5 separate regions of the Homo sapiens genome follow, and regions 1, 2, 3 and 4 are each reported to be linked to region 5. Evidence: microRNA targets listed by miRTarBase, many of them from high-throughput screens and not tested one by one. Region 5 holds a microRNA gene; each other region holds the end of a gene's coding sequence.
The links. Region 5 holds the annotated microRNA hsa-miR-6803-5p (CUGGGGGUGGGGGGCUGGGCGU, at 2,693-2,714, shown strand). A microRNA usually pairs through its seed, bases 2 to 8, with sites in the 3' UTR of a target mRNA and lowers its output. Matches are read on the target gene's strand: a 7mer-m8 pairs with bases 2 to 8, a 7mer-A1 pairs with bases 2 to 7 and ends in A, and an 8mer does both.

Region 1 (3,000 bases), not on the chromosome of region 5:
GCCAGGCTGGTCTCAAACTCCTGACCTCAGGTGATCCATCTGCCTTGGCCTCCCAAAGTGCTGGGACTGCAGGTGTGAGCCACTGCGCCCGGCCTATTGTGACATATTGTGATATTTCTTTCTTTTTTGTGTGACAGTGTCTCACTCTGTTGCAGGCTGGAGTACAGTGGCACAATTTCGGCTCACCTCCACCTCCACTTCCTGGGTTCAAGCAATTCTCATGCCTCAGCCTCCCAAGTAACTGGGACTACAGGCGTGTACCACTACACCCGGCTAATTTTTTATAATTTCAGTAGAGACGGGGTTTCACCATGTTGGCTAGGCTGGTCTCGAACTCCTGACCTCAGGTGATCCGCCCACCTTGGCCTCCCAAAATGCTGGGATTACAGGTGTGAGCCACTGCGCCCGGCCTATTGTGATATTTCTTTACTTAATAACTAGCAGATGAATCTCTTAACAGTATTCTGTTTTCCTCTAAGCATGCATAAAAAGTGGTCAAATAAGTCCATGATGACTCATCACCTTTTCCCTGCAAGGAGTGTACTGTAGATTACCAAACCTGCAGAAGCCGTCTGTGTGGAGACAGGAGGAGGACAAACCAGGCTTGCTCTGCTTCACACCCAGAGACCTGGAGCCACAGCATGTGGAAATTGCTTTCATGACCTTTTATACCCCCTGCTGATAAAGCAATTAGAAAACTGAAGAGTTTCACGGTGGTGAGATAGAATTTCACAATACTGAGTGAGATATTAGCAATGGACTCTCCGTATGTCCCTATGGTCTACAAGCTTAATATGTATCTTTAAACAAACACATAAAAAAATTCATTAACTGGAGAAACAAGATTGTGGCCATAGTCAACACTCTATAATGTCACCATCTTCACCACTATCTCTGCTTAAAATTCTGCCGTACTATCTTCAGAATAAGGATAATGAATTGGAAATACGACCATTTCTTTTCATTGCCCTTGATGGTTACCTTTTTAAAAAAAAAAAAAAAAAAGTAGGGTCTTACTCTATCATCCAGGCTGGAGTATGGTGGCATGATCAGCCTTGAGCTCCTGGGCTCAAGTGATACTCTCGCCTTAGCCTCCAGAGTAGCTAGGATTATAGGTCAGTGCCACCATGCCTGGCTAACTTAAATTTTTTTTTTGTAGAGACAGGGTCTTGCTATGTTGCCTAAGCTGACAATTACTTTATTTAAAAGCTTTTTTTTCTGGCCAGGGGTGGTGGCTCACACCTGTAATCCCAGCACTTTGGGAGGCTGAGGTGGGTGGATCACCTGAGGTCAGGAGTTTGAGACCAGCCTGGCCAATGTGACAAAACCCTGTCTCTACTAAAAATACAAAAATTAGCCGGGCATGGTGGCACGTGCCTGTAATCCCAGCTGCTCAGGAGGCTGAAACAGGAGAATCGCTTGAACCTGGGAGGTGGGGGTTGCAGTGAGCCGAGAATGTGCCACTGCACTCCAGACTAGGTGACAGAGTGAGACTCTGTCTCAAAAAAACAAAACAAAACTTTTTTTTTTTCTTGAGATACGGAGTCTAGCTCTGTCACCCAGGCTGGAGTGCAGTGGTGCGCTCTCAGCTCACTGCAACCTCTGCCTACCGAGTAGCTGGGATTACAGGCACCCGCCATCATGCCCAGCTAATTTTTGTATTTTTAGTAGAGACGGGGTTTCACCATATTGGCCAGGTTGGTCTTGAACTCCTGACCTCATGTGATCCGCCTGCATCGGCCTCCAAAGTGCTGGGATCAAAGGTGTGAGCCACTGTCGTGCCTGTCCTTTTTTTTTTTTTTTTTGAGACAGAGTGTCACTCTGTCACCCAGGCTGGAGTACAGTGGCATAATCTCGGCTCACTGCAACTTCTGCCTCCCCGGTTCAAGCAATTCTCCTGCCTCAGCCTCCCGAGTAGCTGGGACTACAGGCTCCTGCCACCACGCCCAGCTAGTTTTTTGTACTTTTAGTAAAAACACGTTTCACTGTGTTAGCCAGGATGGTCTCGATCTCCTGACCTCGTGATCCACCCGCCTCGGCCTCCCAAAGTGCTGGGATTACAAGCGTGAGCCAACACGCTCGGCCTGGCTTTTTTTTTTTTTAACATGTTCCATATGGGGCAGGGCTAAATGTTAGGCAGTGCGCCCATAGTCACTGCCAATTACTTTTTTTTTTTTTTTTTTTGAGACGGAGTCTCGCTCTGTTGCCCAGGCTGGAGTGCAGTGGCGCAATCTCAGCTCACTGCAAGCTCTGCCTCCCAGGTTCATGCCATTCTCCTGCCTCAGCCTCCCAAGTAGCTGGGATTACAGGCGCCCGCCACCATGGCTGGCTAATTTTTTTTGTATTTTTAGTAGAGACAGGGTTTCACCATGTTAGCCAGGATGGTCTCGATCTCCTGACTTCACGATCCGCCCCCCTCGGCCTCCCAGTGCTGGGATTACAGGCGTGAGCCACTGCGCCTGGCCAATCACTGCCAATTACTTTTGAACAGAGAACATCATATGTAATTAGAGGAGGCGGGATATTGTTGGTGCAGCTATATCATTCAAAATTGGCAGAAGTCCTGAAGCTGGTGGGGCTAAAAAAAAAATTGGTGGAACGGCGTATGTTGAGACCTGGAATAGCTTCTCTGGAAGGTGCTCTAAGGCAGGGGGTAGAGTAGTACATAGGTAGTCAAATGATGAGGCTGAGGGTGTCTACCAATAACACAACGCCACAGAGCTTCCTTGGCACACTTCCCGCTGCTGCTATGTGGGATCCTGTCTGGCTCGCTTAGGATTCTGCAGGTCACCAGGTGGTGAGGCCTTGCTTGCTGAGATGCTCCGGAGAGAATGCAAGCTCTGCGTCTGCTGCAGGCGCAGGGCGAGCTCCCGCTCACAGGCCTCCTGAACAGTCTCCGTCTTCTTTATGTCCCAGTTCAAGGCAACAGCCAGTGCTTTGGGGTCTTCCTTGGTAACCAACTGCAGCAAGAATAAAAACCCCTGAGAACTGGGCCTTCTG
Region 2 (3,000 bases), not on the chromosome of region 5:
CCGGTTTTCTATTGCATTTTTTCAAGTGGAAAAGTTAACTAAATGGTTGACTCACACAAAGTGGTGGAGAAATTGTGCATATGTCATTTTTTTGCTAAAACCTTTTGTTTCAAACTATACTGCTTTAAGATCTCATTTCAGAAGGGCATAGTCTTCAGCCACAGTTGTGATGGTTGTAAATGCTCATAATTGGGCATTCTTAGGGTTTTTTCCATCCCTGGGGTTTGCATGTTGTTCACTTAAAGCATTCCTAAAATGGTTGGCTTCTGGTTTGCAAGCCAGCTGATAATGGTAGCAACCAAAGACTCCAGGGTGTAAGCATATGAAAGACTCTGCTTGCTTGTGCTAGAAATAACAGCATCTAAAGTGAAGACTTAAGAAAAAACTTAGTGGCTACTAGACTATCCTTAGGACTCTGCATTAACTCTATAATGTTATTGCTTTTTTTAAGCATATTTGTCAGAGTAGTCAATATGTTAAAACTGAACATGTATGAAAGTTGCTTAGATAAATGTAATCACTGTAAACATCAAAAAAGAGAGAAACTTGTAAAGCATTTCAGCAGTGCCTAAAGAAAATTTTAAGCCTCAAACACTTTATATATAATCTCATTTAATTCTCACTGCAACTCCATGAAGCAGTGTAGTTATTTTTATGCCTGATTACTAATGTGGCAACAGGCATGAAGTTAAATGCACACAATTAGTAGCAAGAGGATTTGCACAGTTTCTGGCTCCAAAGTCTTTGAAAGTCTTTGTGTTTCTACCATGCAGCTTTTTTCTTTTTTTCAGTTTCCTTTATTTTTTGCTTGCACTTTGATATTTTAAAGGGGACACGAGACAAGAGGCTGTATGCCTTACTTTTGGTGCTGCCTAGCTTATCTTTATACAAATTAAAGATTAACTTTCTCTGGCAACTGGCAAGCACCCATCTTGACACTTCCACATTTTTTTTCACTGCTGCTAAAAGCTGATAGACTTGAACTGCCCCTGCCCGCCAGCACCACAAAACATTTTGCTTGTTTTTTAAGACCGCTAACTTATATGTATTTTAAATTCAAGCCCTACGAGCTTAGAGAATGCCTCATGACTTCAACAAGTTGATCTGACATTTATACCCCAAAACAAATAATGAAATAAAGAATATGCAGAGCACATTCTTTTACCTTTCCCACCATCCCAGCAGAGCATCATAATGGCACCTAAGCATTCCCAAGGGCTCCACAGCAGCCTTGATCAGAACTGCTGTCCACAATTGCAGACTGGCTCACTGAAAAACTGGAAGCATTACTGGACGCCGCTCAACAAAGCTTAGCCCTTTTTGGAACTAGTGAAAGAAGTCATCGATCATGTTGTAATGCATTTAAATGTCTACTCAGATAAACATAAAAACCTGTAAGGTGTGTGCACTAGGATTAGCTGGTCTTCCCTTCTAATTTTCACTTCTCAGTAACCAAGTGAAATTTCAGCCTTGTTTTTATGCCTCAAAACACTTTAGCTTGTGCTTGAGCTTCTTAAAAAATTCAAAATGTTAATTACGCACTCCAATAAGTTAGCCAAATTGGTTGAAAGATACAATATATGTACCTTCCCAAATATTTTAAATATTTCTGAACTTTTTGTTGAGATGTATGGTCTTATCTTGGTACTGAATTAGAAATAAAGTTTGGAAGTAAATTTTGTCAGTACCTAGTTCCCAAACAAAGCTAAATACTTGCACAGATGAATATCCACCACCATGAAATACCAGAGAGAACACAAAATTTACTTTTGCTAGTAAATCAATTAAATTGATTTTTATTTAATGACGAAACCATTCATTGGCAGATTAATGAGGACCAGACGCTTGTCCAATTTAGTTGACACATTTGCTTTTTTATTTTTTAGAATATAGTCTACATCTGGATTAAAAAAAGTTTTAAATAAATTTAAGACATACAACAACAGTGGAACCCTTCATCATTCTATGTACAACACGATAGAATGTCAGTTGGTTCCATTTCGGTTAAGTCCACTTTCTCATAATAATGTTATTATTTTCACTGAGTGGCAAGCTACGTACAAGCTGGCGAAATGCCAGCTTATACACACTGGGGTGGGGGTGGGGACGGGAGTGGCACGAAAGGGATGGGGTGGGGGTGCCATAGGACTACTATACAGTGTAACAGAAAATCATTAATAAAGTAGTACCGATTACCGACAGACAGTGCTGTTTGTGCGCTTATCACAATGGAATCGCTGAAGTTTCAGAGCAAGGAGGAGATTCGAAATACTTCACACAGGGCCAATGTTACAAAAAGAAATAGTGCAAACAGGAAAACTGATGCAATCCTAGCAACGCCTGGGCCTCCACCGGCCCAACCGCAGGGCGGCGGGAGGCTACGCGCCCCGCCTTCCCCAGCACCCAGCTCCGGGCTGCTTTCCCAAGTGTGGCAACCCAGCGCCGCGCCCTGGTATGGCCCCTTCTCGGGCCCTCTCCTCCGAAAAGAACAGAAAAGAAACCCCAGGAAAGGCACAGGCTGAATGCAGGGCGTCAGCCCAGTCCCATTCCCACCAACATAGAATGCAGGCCCCCTCCCAGGAGGTTCCTTGGGCCCTCCCATCTCCGGCCACCATTTTCTTCTCTCTCACACGTGGCCCCCTCCTCCACGCAGCCCCACCGCGCCTCCTGCACGTACGCAGCCCCCCAGTTTGCAGTCTGCCCTTCCCGCCCCCCAGCCAGGAAAAAAAAAAAAAGCTTTGAGGAATGAGAGAGGGTGAGATGGGTCGAAGAAGGTGCTGGGCAGCCACGGGCGCCACGCCTCAGTGGCCCCAATTGCCGAAGCCGATCTCCTGCTTGTATCTGTTAGTGAGGATGTTGGCTTTGCGCGTGAGTTTCGAGAGCACAGTGTGCAGCCCGCGCAGGTGGTAGTGGAACTGCTGTTCCAGGTCTTCTTCGCCGGCGTCCGCACCCTCCAAGTGGCCCAGGTCCACCAGGATGTCCTTGGACTTCCAGGCACTG
Region 3 (3,000 bases), not on the chromosome of region 5:
GACCTCGTGATCTCCCTGCCTCGGCTTCCCAAAGTGCTGGGATTACAGGTGTGAGCCACTGTGCCTGGCCTGAAATATAATCTTTAGCTATAGAGCAGTCCCCTAGTAGAGTTGTTTATGAGATTTTTTTTTTCCTTTAGGGTCAAACAACTGTTCTGCCGAGAGTAAGTTGGGACTTTTGTTTTTCTTTCTTTAGGACTATTAGAAGACACATTAGTGCAGAAGCTTCCAGGCTGTAGAGCCCTGCTTCCCTTCTCTGACCTCACAAAGATAAACATCCTTCACCTGAGTTCGTGGCCATCCACCTCTGCTCTCCCAGACCCAGTGCCTGTGACTTTGAGTAGTTTGTTCTAAATGTGGTGACAAACAAGTCATTTCTGTAAGACATTGGGTCTTACTTTATGTCATTTTTAGTAACAGAACTGCAGGAAGATGAAGACAATGTTGTAATCCCAGCAAGTTGCTAACTGTGCGTTTCTCCCTTCTTAGAATGAATGTCTCCCCCAAAACTGGCTGGCACCAGCTTCATCTGTGATACCCTTCAAGAAATGTTCTCTGGTTTTGTTTTATGCTGAAAGTAGAACACAAGTCACATTTCAGATGGAGGCTGTAAATATCTGGCATTTTCTTATATTGTTTTATGTTTTCTTGTTTTTCTCTTGTTGTTTTTATCTTATTTTCTTTGGGGTTTTTTTGTAATGCCTTTGTACAGCTCATACTTTCCTGCTGACATATCTGATCATCTCTTTCATGCAGTTGCCAATATTCATAACTGAAAATAATCTGGTTTATCATAAGTAAAATGGGAAACTTGCCTCTGTTTTTTGCAAGGGGAGGTAAAGAGTGTTTAGTAATTACCTATCTTAAATCTTTCTGAGTTGGTAGTAGATTCATGTTCAAGGAACAGGAAAAATGGAAAAACATAAGTTTAAATCAGTTCTTTTTAAATAACTTTTTATTCTTTTGTATAAATAAAATTTCACAGGCTTCAAATTCTCATGCTTTACTTTTAAACCCGAGATTGTTTTTTCACTTATTTATTCATATCATGCCTTATGGAAATTTCTTTTTCTGTATTTTCTCTCTTTGCTGGTATTCACCTGATTAAATATTGCTCTAAAAATCACCATGGCATATGGAAAGTCTCAAAATTATACCAAAAGTGATAACTTATGTCGTTCTTAAGTGGAGTGAAAGGATAGCATCAGTGAGAGCCAGTGTTGCCCACCAGGTCTCCCTTTCTTGGAGGGCTTGTTGGGGCTGAGGAATCTGCTAGTAATCGTTACCTGCCTCTAGTGCTGTGGTGAACTTGCGACAGGGTCTGGCTGCACATTGGAATCACCTGAGAAGCTTTAAAATACTCATGCCTGGATCCCATCCCTAGAGACTGGGGTACAGCCTAGTTATTGGGAATTTCTTTAAAAGAGTTCCTGGGATTCTGATAAGAAGCCAGGTTGAGAACCACTACATTAGAAGACTGAATGGTTTAATTTACATCCTATGTTATGATTGGTCTAAGGGATAAGATTTGGGGTCTAACCTTTCCTTTCACTCTAGTTAGTCATAGTCCTTGACTTATGCCTATATCTTTGTAAGAAATAGTATGTTTCATTTGTGATAGTATTGGTAGGGCTGAATATGGATGGCATCTACTGTAAAACAAGTCTACCTTGTCAGATGTGCAAAAGCTTTCACTCTTGTTCTCAAATAAACTTTTGTGGGTTTTTTTTTTTTTTTTTTTTTGACTCTGGCTATTTAGATCTTTGACTGTGTCTTTGGTAGCAGAACTCCAGTGTCAGGATTTTTAAGGAAATAGTTTCTTATATTTAGATTATTCCTTAAAAAAAAAAATCCTAGAAGCATTCTGTATTTTTTGTCTGTTGGTCTCCTTTGCTGGGAGGGAGGAGTGGGATGCCTACAGTTTCCTTCCTTTTGGGGAAAGCACACAGCAGACCTTAAAATATTTTTGACTCTTGGGCTGGGTGCGGTGGCTCACACCTGTAATCCCAGCACTTTGGGAGGCCGAAGCGGGCGGATCACGAGGTCAGGAGATCGAGACCATCCTGGCGAACACAGTGAAACCCCATCTCTACTAAAAATGCAAAAAATTAGCTGAGCGTGGTGGCGGGTGCCGGTAGTCCCAGCTACTCGGGAGGCTGAGGCAGGAGAATGGCATGAACCTGGGAGGCGGAGCTTACAGTGAGCTGAGATAGTGCCACTGCACTCCAGCCTGGGCGACAGAGCGAGACTCCATCTCAAAAAAAAAAAATATTTTTGACTCTTAACAGTTTGAGATTGCTAGAGATGGAATAGTACTGCTCTGTTGCGCCACTGCACTCCAGCAGCCTGGGCGACAGAGCGAGACTCTGTCAAAAAAAAAAAAAAAAAGAAAGAATAGTACTGCTCTTAAAAAGATTATTTACGTATTTATGAAACTGCAGTGGGATGCCTAGTTTCCTTCCCTCTGAGGAAAGCACACAGCAGACCTTAAAATATTTTTGACTCTCATAGTTTGACATTGCTGGAGACAGAATAGTACTGCTCTTAAAAAGATTATTTAAGTATTTATATATTTTATTTATTTATTTATTTATTTATTTATTTATTGACAGGATCTTGCTCTGTCACCCAGGCTGGAGTGCAGCGGCCTGATCAAAGCTCAGTGCAGCCTCGAACTTCTGGGGTCAAGCCATCTTCCTGCTTCAGCCTTACTAGTACCTGGGACTATAGGTGCATGCCACCATTCCCAGCTAATTTAAAACATTTTTATTTTGTAATGATGGCTTCTTGCTATGTTGCCCAGGCTGGCCTCAAGCAGTCCTCCTGGCCTCAAGCAGTCCTTCTGCCTTGGCCTCCCAAAGTGCTGGGATTATAGGTATCAAGCAATTCTCCTGCCTCAGCCTCCCCAGTAGCTGGGACTACAGGCATGCACCACCATGCCCATCTAAGTTTTGTATTTTTAGTGGAGATGGGGTTTTGCCATGATGGGCAGGCTGGTCT
Region 4 (3,000 bases), not on the chromosome of region 5:
GCCGCGGCCCAGTCAGCCTGGAGCCCAGAGCTGTGGAAGGAGGCGAGGAGGCCACGGCTAATTTGTACACTAAATGCTTCTGACAGCGATGCCTCATAAGTGAGAACTTGCCACTGCCCACCCCGGGAAGGCTGTGGCCAGCAGCGCCAACAAGAGGGGCCAGGAGAGGGCACCGTGGGGGCACAGGGCTGGGACAGACCAGATACACCAGAGAGATGGTGCTGTTGGTGGGGGTGAGACCCAGGAGGAGATGCGGGGGAGGGGAGAGGCCTGCACAGAGAAGGGAGGGGAGGGCTGGGCGGGGGCCGGGCAGTGACAGTGGGAAGGAGTCAGCCCCGACAGCTGCCACCAAGGTCTGCCCCGCGCCAGGGCTGTGTGTCCTGCCCAGCCAATCCTCCCTGCTGCCTGCAGGACGCTCGCATCTTTTCCCCTTACCTGCTGCCAGCCGCCTCCTCCAGGCCTCCGCAGCAGCCCCTCACGTGGCCCCGGCCCAACACCTGGCAGGGTCTGTGCTGTGGGACCCTGAGTCCTCTGCAGACGCCCCCCCTTTCCCTCATCACCTCCCTGTGGGAGCTGCTCCCGGGGGCTTTCAAGTGGAGAGGAGGCTGCTGGCTGGGCTAGTGGGGACTCTGGGCAGCTGAGGGGGTGGGCACGGACCCCTTGCCTGCTGTGCGGGACTCCTGCAAGAAGGAGGGTCCTTCTTGTGGGCCTCTGTCCTGGGCCACCCCAGGACTGGGGTGGCAGAAGCCAGAGAGGTGGGTGGTGGTGGGGGTGGGGCCAGGGACAGAGGAGCAGGGTCTCGGGAGGAACGGGGGTCCCAGATACCCCAGGACTAGACAGAGCCAGCTCTGTGCCAAACAGGAGCGGGCACGAGCCCGGCCCCCACCCACAGGAGGAGTGTGACGTGGCGCAGTCGCGGAGCAGCAGGGCCGGCGTCCGCGGGCACCGAGGTGAGATGTGTTCTGGCAGCTCCCCGCCGCCCGAGGCCCGCCCGGAGCGAACACTGCTGGTGGCTTTAATTGCTTTCACATTCGATACGCTGCCCGTGACAGCCTCTTACCCCGCGCCGGCCGCACCCCAGCCCCCAACTCCGTCCAGGGAGACAGCAGAGCCTCCGAGCGGGCGCTTTGCTCAGCAGCACCCGTGTGGGGGCAGAGGCCACCCTGGGACGAGGCTGGGAGGGGACAGGAAACTTTTCTCCCCACGCGCCCCCTCACTCCATCTGCTCCTGCCGGGTGACTGATGGGTTCAGACAGAGCCCCCCGTGCGGATGCCTCGCTGGAAGAAGCTGCATGCGCTGCTGTCCCGTCTGCCCAGTCCTTCCCGGCCCTGGGGCTGCGGCCGCAGGGTCTGACCCCTGCCCCCGCCCAGTCACTCCGTCCTTCCTGGCTGCGTCCATTTGGCAGGGCCGGCTGCCCCTTACAAGCTTGTGAGTCACCCCACCACGGCCATCTCCAGGGGCCCCCACCCGTCCGCCTGCCCGGGATGCCTGGGCAGGGCCTACCCCTCAGACCTGCAACCTCCCCGCCCTTCCACAGGGCCCTGCGCGGGGCAACAGCAGGAGGAGGAGGCGTGATTACAAAACAAAACGCTTTTATTTGGTCCATTGGAGCCTGAGTCGGAAGCCACTGTGGAGAATCCTATGGTAAAGGAACGGGACTGACAATTGATAAAATAGTCTCTGTGTCACAAGAGCTGGCCGTATTTACAGGGTTAAAAATATTCACAGCTCAGAGTACAGGGAGGCCAAAGGGGAGTGGGAATGTTTCTCCAGGTGAAAAGGCCCCGGAAGCCCCTGCCGGGGTAGGAGGGGGAGTGGGGGCGAGGCCGGCCCGCTGCCGGGAGTGAGGGGCCAGGAGGGCACGCAGAAAGCTGGGCTCAGACGTCCACACACTCCTGGGCTTCTGTGGGGAGGTGGGAGCGGCTGAGCCCTGCCCGTGCCCACGATGTGCTGGGGTCCCTCTCTGGCAGGGCCGGGCCGAGGGACAGGGTTGGCTGAGGAGCCTGCTGGTCCCAGTGTGCCCGGCAGCAGTGAGCGGTGCTGAGAACTGGTGCCCACCCACAGCGGGCCTGGCGCCCGCCTGCACCCAGTCATGGCTTCGATCCTGGCGGGCACTCCAGGATTTGCATAGTGTCGCTGGGGGGCTGGCCAAGGGCCCCTTCTTCTGAGACAGGCACCGCCCCGGGACTCGCCGCTCCACACCAGGGCTCCAGGGACCCCGCCTGCCCTGTGGGGGACAGGGACCCGGGCTCTGGGGGAAAACTGACCTTATGCCCCGTGAGGGGTGGTCCCTGATCCCACCCCAGGGTCTTGGCCTCTGACACCCAGATTTGGTTTTGCGGACAGAGCTCCTGGCTGCCTAGCCCGCAGGAGACCCTGAGCCCACAGGGAGGGGCAGCCTGGCCTCGGCCCCCGTCGGGTGTTGGGGCTGGCAGGTGAGCGGGGCTGGTTCACAGCCCGCCTGGTTCGAGGTATTCTGCGTGGCGGCCAGGAGGCCTGGCCAGGCGGACTGTGGGGTTCAGGGAGGGGAAGGAGGGGGGCGGGGGGCCCATGGGAAGCTGAGCCCTGGGCTGGCAGCTCCCTGGGCGGGGTCCTGAGATTCTGGCTCAAGCGTCCTCTGTCGGGGTCTCCCTCATAAAGTGCGTGTGGGGGTGGGGGGTCCGTCTGTGCACAGCCCCTGCCCCAGGCATGGTGGTCACAGCGGTCGGGGCCCATGCAGACCGGCGACCTCTGGCGTGAGTGGGGGGCTGTGGGTCCCCTTGGAGGCTGTCCAGTCACTGAGGAAGGCCTGGGCTGCCTTGCGATGTGCCAGGCGGTGGGTGATAGAGAAGCCGGCGTTGCCCTCTAGCTGGGACAAGATCACCAGGACCTGCCTGGGGGAGGGGACCGGTGAGGACCTGTGGAGGGCAGGGTGGGGATGGGGGCAGGGCTGTGCCCACCTGTACAGGGGCAGGAGCAGGAGTGGGGTGACAAACACCCGTACAGGGGTGGGGGCAGGG
Region 5 (4,599 bases):
CAGGGCCGGGTGTTGCCAGCTTTGTTCTTCCCCCACAGAATCTGTCTATCCCACCCTGGGTTCCTTCAGGTCCTGGTCAGTGACTATTCTGGGAGCCCCTCCCTTCCAACTTTTCCTCTTCCTTGTTCCAGCCCAGGTGCTGGGTGAGAGGATGGTTGGGGTGTGTTTGTGTGTGAGTGGTGTCCAGGCAACGGCCACAGCCTGGAGATGCACAGACTTCCTCTCTTCCCCCTGCCGCCGCCCCATGCCTCCCACGTAGCCTTGGGGGATTTGCTGGGCCAAGCAGCAGCCGTGTGCTGGAAGTCATCGGGCATCTGAGTTTGTTGAGCAAATACAGGTTGAAGCAAATTTGAAGCCAGAGGTTAAGGCCCTGCCTCTGCAGTGTCTCTCCCAAAAGTAGGGATAGTGGACCCAGACCCTCATGGGGAGACAGGGCCCGAGGCCCCTCAGTGCACAGGGTCCAGCCTCTTCTCGCAGGCCCTGCACATGGTCCACACCTGGGGACTTCACCAGGCCTGAGGCCTCAGGTGTGAAATGACCCCCTGGACCTCAGGCGAGGCGGCCGGGAGGCTGGAGATGGGGGAAGAGGGGCAGGCTCGAGGGCAACTGCAGGAGCCTGGTGCTCACTGGGAGCCTTAAGCCTGAGTGATGGAGGCAGTGAGCCTGCGGGCAGTCCCGGGGCGGGGCCGGGCTCAGCATGAGGCAGAGGGCTGGGACTTGGGGAGAGGCTGTGCCCAAGGTGGGCACTCAGCCCCTGTGGTCAGTGCCTCGTCCAGTGGGGACTCCCTGGGGCGTCTGACGCGGCGCTGGTTGTGTCTATGCCTGCAGGGCGCCATGTTTTGGAAGTTTGACCTGCACACAAGCTCGCACCTGGACACGCTGCTGGAGCGGGAGGACCTGAGCCTGCCCGAGCTGCTGGACGAGGAAGACGTGCTGCAGGAGTGCAAGGTCGTCAACCGCAAGCTGCTGGACTTCCTGCTGCAGCCACCCCACCTGCAAGCAATGGTGGCCTGGGTCACCCAGGAGCCGCCAGATAGCGGTGAGGAGCGGCTGCGCTACAAGTGAGTTCCCCAGCTCCTGGCCAGCCCGTCCCTATCAGCATCACACATACCTTCACTACGCAAGCCTCACAGCTACCCTGAAATGCGTCAGTGTCAGTAAACTCCAGTTTGGGGATGAGGAAGACGAGGCTGGGAGCAGCCAGGCTCCTGCACAAGGCCTCACAGCTCACCGGGTGCAGACCAAGCCTGTGCTCTGGAGGGCAGTGGCACAGTCACGGGTCACGGCAGCCACAAATTCACGGGCCCAGGTGATCCTCCCGCCTCAGTTGCCCGAGTAGCTGGGACCACAGGCATGTGACGACATGCCCGGCTGGTTTTTCTCTTTATTCGCCGCCTTTTATTTTATTTACTTTTTATTAAACTTTTTTTGTATGTTTGTGAAACACTTGTCTGCTATTGAAGACACTTTACTTATTTTTTAATCCAAGCGATGCTGAAAAGACACTTTTTTTTTTTTTTTTGAGACTCACTTTATCACCAGGTTGGAGTGCAGAGGCATGATCGGCTCACTGCAACCTCCTCCTCCCAAGTTCAAGTGATTCTCCTGCCTCACCCTCCTAAGTAGCTGGGACTATAAGCCAGCACGCCCAGCTAATTTTTGTATTTTTGGTAGAGACAGGGTTTCGCCATGTTGCCCAGGCTGGTCTTGAACTTCTGACCTCAAGTGATATGCCTGCCTCAGCCTCCCAAGGGGTACCTCCCCACAGTCCTGGAGCAGACTGTGGCCCCTCAGGGCCTTGAGTGGCACGCTGGTGGGGCAGCTCTTGTCTTGGAGCCGTCAGGCACCGTGTGAAAGTTTGGAGGAGGGAGGCAGGAGGTGAGGTTGGAAGTTGAGCAAGGTTCCAGGAGTCAGCCGGAGCTGGGGCAGCATACGGGGTTGCAAGTGAAGCCGCTGAGAGGCAAAAGGGATGAGTGTTAGCTGCTGGGGGATTGGGAAGCGCAGGAGCTTCAGGACCAGCTTGTCTTGGGGGTGGTAAGGAGCCTAGGATGGGATGGTTGGGTGTTAGCAGGGTGGAGGAGGCCTGGTGTGGGCCCTTGTTTCTGCGTCACCCTGTCCTCTGCCCTTTCCCCTTCCTGGACAGGGGTCTCTGCAGTTCCCAGAAACCCAGTGCCCGGTGCAGAGAAGAGGGTGGAGCCTTGCCGCCCCCTGCCCCCGGCCTCCGACCCGAGCCCCCACCCGCCTGTGCTTGCCTCCCAGGTACCCCAGTGTGGCCTGCGAGATTCTGACCTCAGATGTGCCCCAGATCAATGATGCCCTGGGTGCTGATGAGTCCCTTCTGAACCGGCTCTACGGCTTCCTGCAGAGCACCGGCAGCCTCAACCCACTGCTGGCCAGCTTCTTCAGCAAGGTCATGGGCATCCTCATCAACCGCAAGACAGACCAGGTGCCCTGGCCCCCACCCTGGCGCCACCGTGGGTTGAGGGGTGGTGGCTGGGCCAGGCCCTGTGCATGACGCAGCCCGTGTGCCCCCAGCTCGTGTCCTTTCTTCGGAAGAAGGATGACTTCGTGGACCTGCTGCTGCAGCACATTGGCACCTCGGCCATCATGGACCTCCTGCTGCGCCTGCTCACCTGTGTGGAGCGGCCTCAGCTGAGGCAGGATGTTGTCAATGTGAGCAGGGCCGGCTCCTCTGGGGGTGGGGGGCTGGGCGTGGTGGACAGCGATGCATCCCTCGCCTTCTCACCCTCAGTGGCTCAACGAGGAGAAGATCGTCCAGCGGCTGATTGAGCAGATCCACCCGTCGAAGGATGAGAATGTGAGTGCTGCCGATGCCCCTGCGGATTCCCCTTAGAGTTCCTTCCCCATGCCCACTTCCCCACTTTTAAAAGAGGAATTGGGGCTGGACGCAGTGGCTCACGCCTGTAATTCCAGCACTTTGGGAGGGCGAGGTGGGAGGATTACTTGAGCCCATGAGTTTGAGACCAGCTTGGGCAACATAGTAACACCCCGTCTCTACGTAAAAACTTAGCTGAGTGTGGTGTTGCACACCTGTAGTCCCAGCTACTTGGGAAGCTCAGGTAGGAGGATTGCTTGAGCCGGGAGGTCAAGGCTATAGTGAGTCATGATCACACCACTGCACTCCAGCCTGGGTGACACAGTGAGACCCTGTCTCAAAAAAAAAAAAAGAAAGAAAAGAAATTGGTGAGAAAAGAGAGCATTGAGAACCAGGTGTATCCATGCCCTTTGAGAAAAGGAAAGAAACTTGACTCAAGTGATTCTCCCACTGTGGCCTCCGAAAGTGCTGGAAAGGTTTTTTTCATGACCCAGGAACTTGGCACATAATGCCTTGCAGGGAGGGGCCCTCCTCATCGCCTGTCCAAGCGCTGGCCCCACATCCGTCCCTGCCCACCCTGGCCTGTGCTATTGCTGGGCCTGGCAGCTTTTTCCCTGTCTCCTGCCTGATTGAACCCCTTGCTGTCCTTCTAAGTGTCCGTCCAGCAGCCTTGCTTTCAAGCGCCCTCACATCCTCCCCTTTAGCTCTGGGGGACCCCATGTCCATGTGTTTCTCCAGCTTGGGTCTCCATCTCTGTCCTGGTGCCCAGCACAGGGCCTAGTGTAGAGTGGGTGTTTGTCAAGAGCCTCAGATATCCGAGGCCACTGGGAGCAACATGTCCTTCCCAATGCCAACTTCTGCCTCAGAGGCGCACAGGCTTACAGAGCAGAGATGGCTCTGGGCTCACCCAGGCTGGGGCCTGTCCCTGTGAGGACCCTGAGGCATGGCCCAGGGCCACACTGCCAAGCCCTGGCAGCTGCCCGTTGGGTAGACTCAGCTCTGCTTATGCTTCTCTCTTTTCTCTCTTTTGTAGCAGCTTTACTGAGATGTAAATTGCACAGCATACCACTCACCCACCGAAGCTTACGATTCAGCGCTTTTAGGGTATTCAAAGCGTTTATCATCTTGTTGAATTTAGATTATTTTTTATCACTCCAAAAAACAAGTCCTGCCTGTAATCCCAGCGCTTTGGCAGGTGAGGCTGGAGGATTGCTTGAGCCCAGGAGTTTGAGACTAGCCTGGGCAACATAGCAAGACGTTGTCGCTACAAAAAATTGAAAAATTAGCTGGCATTGGTGGTGCACACCTGTAATCCTAGCTACTCAAGAGTCTGAGACGGGAGGATCTCTTGGGCCCAGGAGTTCAGGGCTGCAGTGAGCTGTGATGGCACCACTGCGCTCAAGCCTGGGGTGATGTAGAGGCCGTGTCTTTTTTTTGAGACAGTGTCTTGCTCTGTTGCCCAGGCTGGAGTGCAGTGGCGTGATCTTGCCTCACTGTAGCCTTGACCCCCCTGGGCTCAAGCAATCCTCCTGCCTCTGCCTCATGAACAGCTGGAACTAGAGATGCACACCACCATTCTTGGCTAATTTTTTTGTATTTGTAGAGATAGAGTTTTGCTATGTTGCCCCGACTGGTCTCAAACTCCTGGGCTCAAGTGATCCTGCCACCTTGGCCTTTCTTTTTTTTTTTTTTTTTTTGAGATGGAGTCTCGCTCTGTCTAGAGTGCAGTGGCACGATCTCGGCTCACTGCAGCCTCCACCTCC

Region 1: the mRNA of DFFA is a reported target of hsa-miR-6803-5p. Seed matches in the 3' UTR shown: 7mer-m8 at 1,434-1,440.
Region 2: miRTarBase lists MID1IP1 as a target of hsa-miR-6803-5p. Seed matches in the 3' UTR shown: 7mer-m8 at 2,133-2,139 and 7mer-m8 at 2,096-2,102.
Region 3: miRTarBase lists MEAF6 as a target of hsa-miR-6803-5p. Seed matches in the 3' UTR shown: 7mer-A1 at 501-507.
Region 4: miRTarBase lists CAPN15 as a target of hsa-miR-6803-5p. Seed matches in the 3' UTR shown: 7mer-m8 at 2,648-2,654.

Annotation. Positions count from the first base shown.
Region 1 is chr1:10,458,743-10,461,742 of GRCh38, forward strand. DFFA (DNA fragmentation factor subunit alpha) reads right to left here. Exons shown (of 6, transcript NM_004401.3): 6 at 1-2,960. The coding sequence ends at 2,748. Among named protein-coding and RNA genes, the nearest start is that of CORT, 10 kb to the left of the region's middle.
Region 2 is chrX:38,805,300-38,808,299 of GRCh38, reverse strand. It overlaps MID1IP1 (MID1 interacting protein 1), which reads right to left. Exons shown (of 3, transcript NM_021242.6): 3 at 1,768-3,000. The coding sequence ends at 2,802. Among named protein-coding and RNA genes, the nearest start is that of MID1IP1-AS1, 2.9 kb to the right of the region's middle.
Region 3 is chr1:37,491,304-37,494,303 of GRCh38, reverse strand. MEAF6 (MYST/Esa1 associated factor 6) reads left to right here. Exons shown (of 7, transcript NM_001270875.3): 7 at 197-3,000. The coding sequence ends at 205. Among named protein-coding and RNA genes, the nearest start is that of MIR5581, 8.2 kb to the left of the region's middle.
Region 4 is chr16:553,213-556,212 of GRCh38, reverse strand. CAPN15 (calpain 15) reads right to left here. Exons shown (of 14, transcript NM_005632.3): 14 at 1,577-2,874. The coding sequence ends at 2,697. Among named protein-coding and RNA genes, the nearest start is that of PRR35, 5.7 kb to the left of the region's middle.
Region 5 is chr19:55,243,339-55,247,937 of GRCh38, reverse strand. MIR6803 (microRNA 6803) reads left to right here and starts at 2,688; the gene lies at 2,688-2,752. PPP6R1 (protein phosphatase 6 regulatory subunit 1) reads left to right here. Exons shown (of 24, transcript NM_014931.4): 2 at 829-1,061; 3 at 2,260-2,446; 4 at 2,536-2,673; 5 at 2,753-2,818. The coding sequence starts at 835.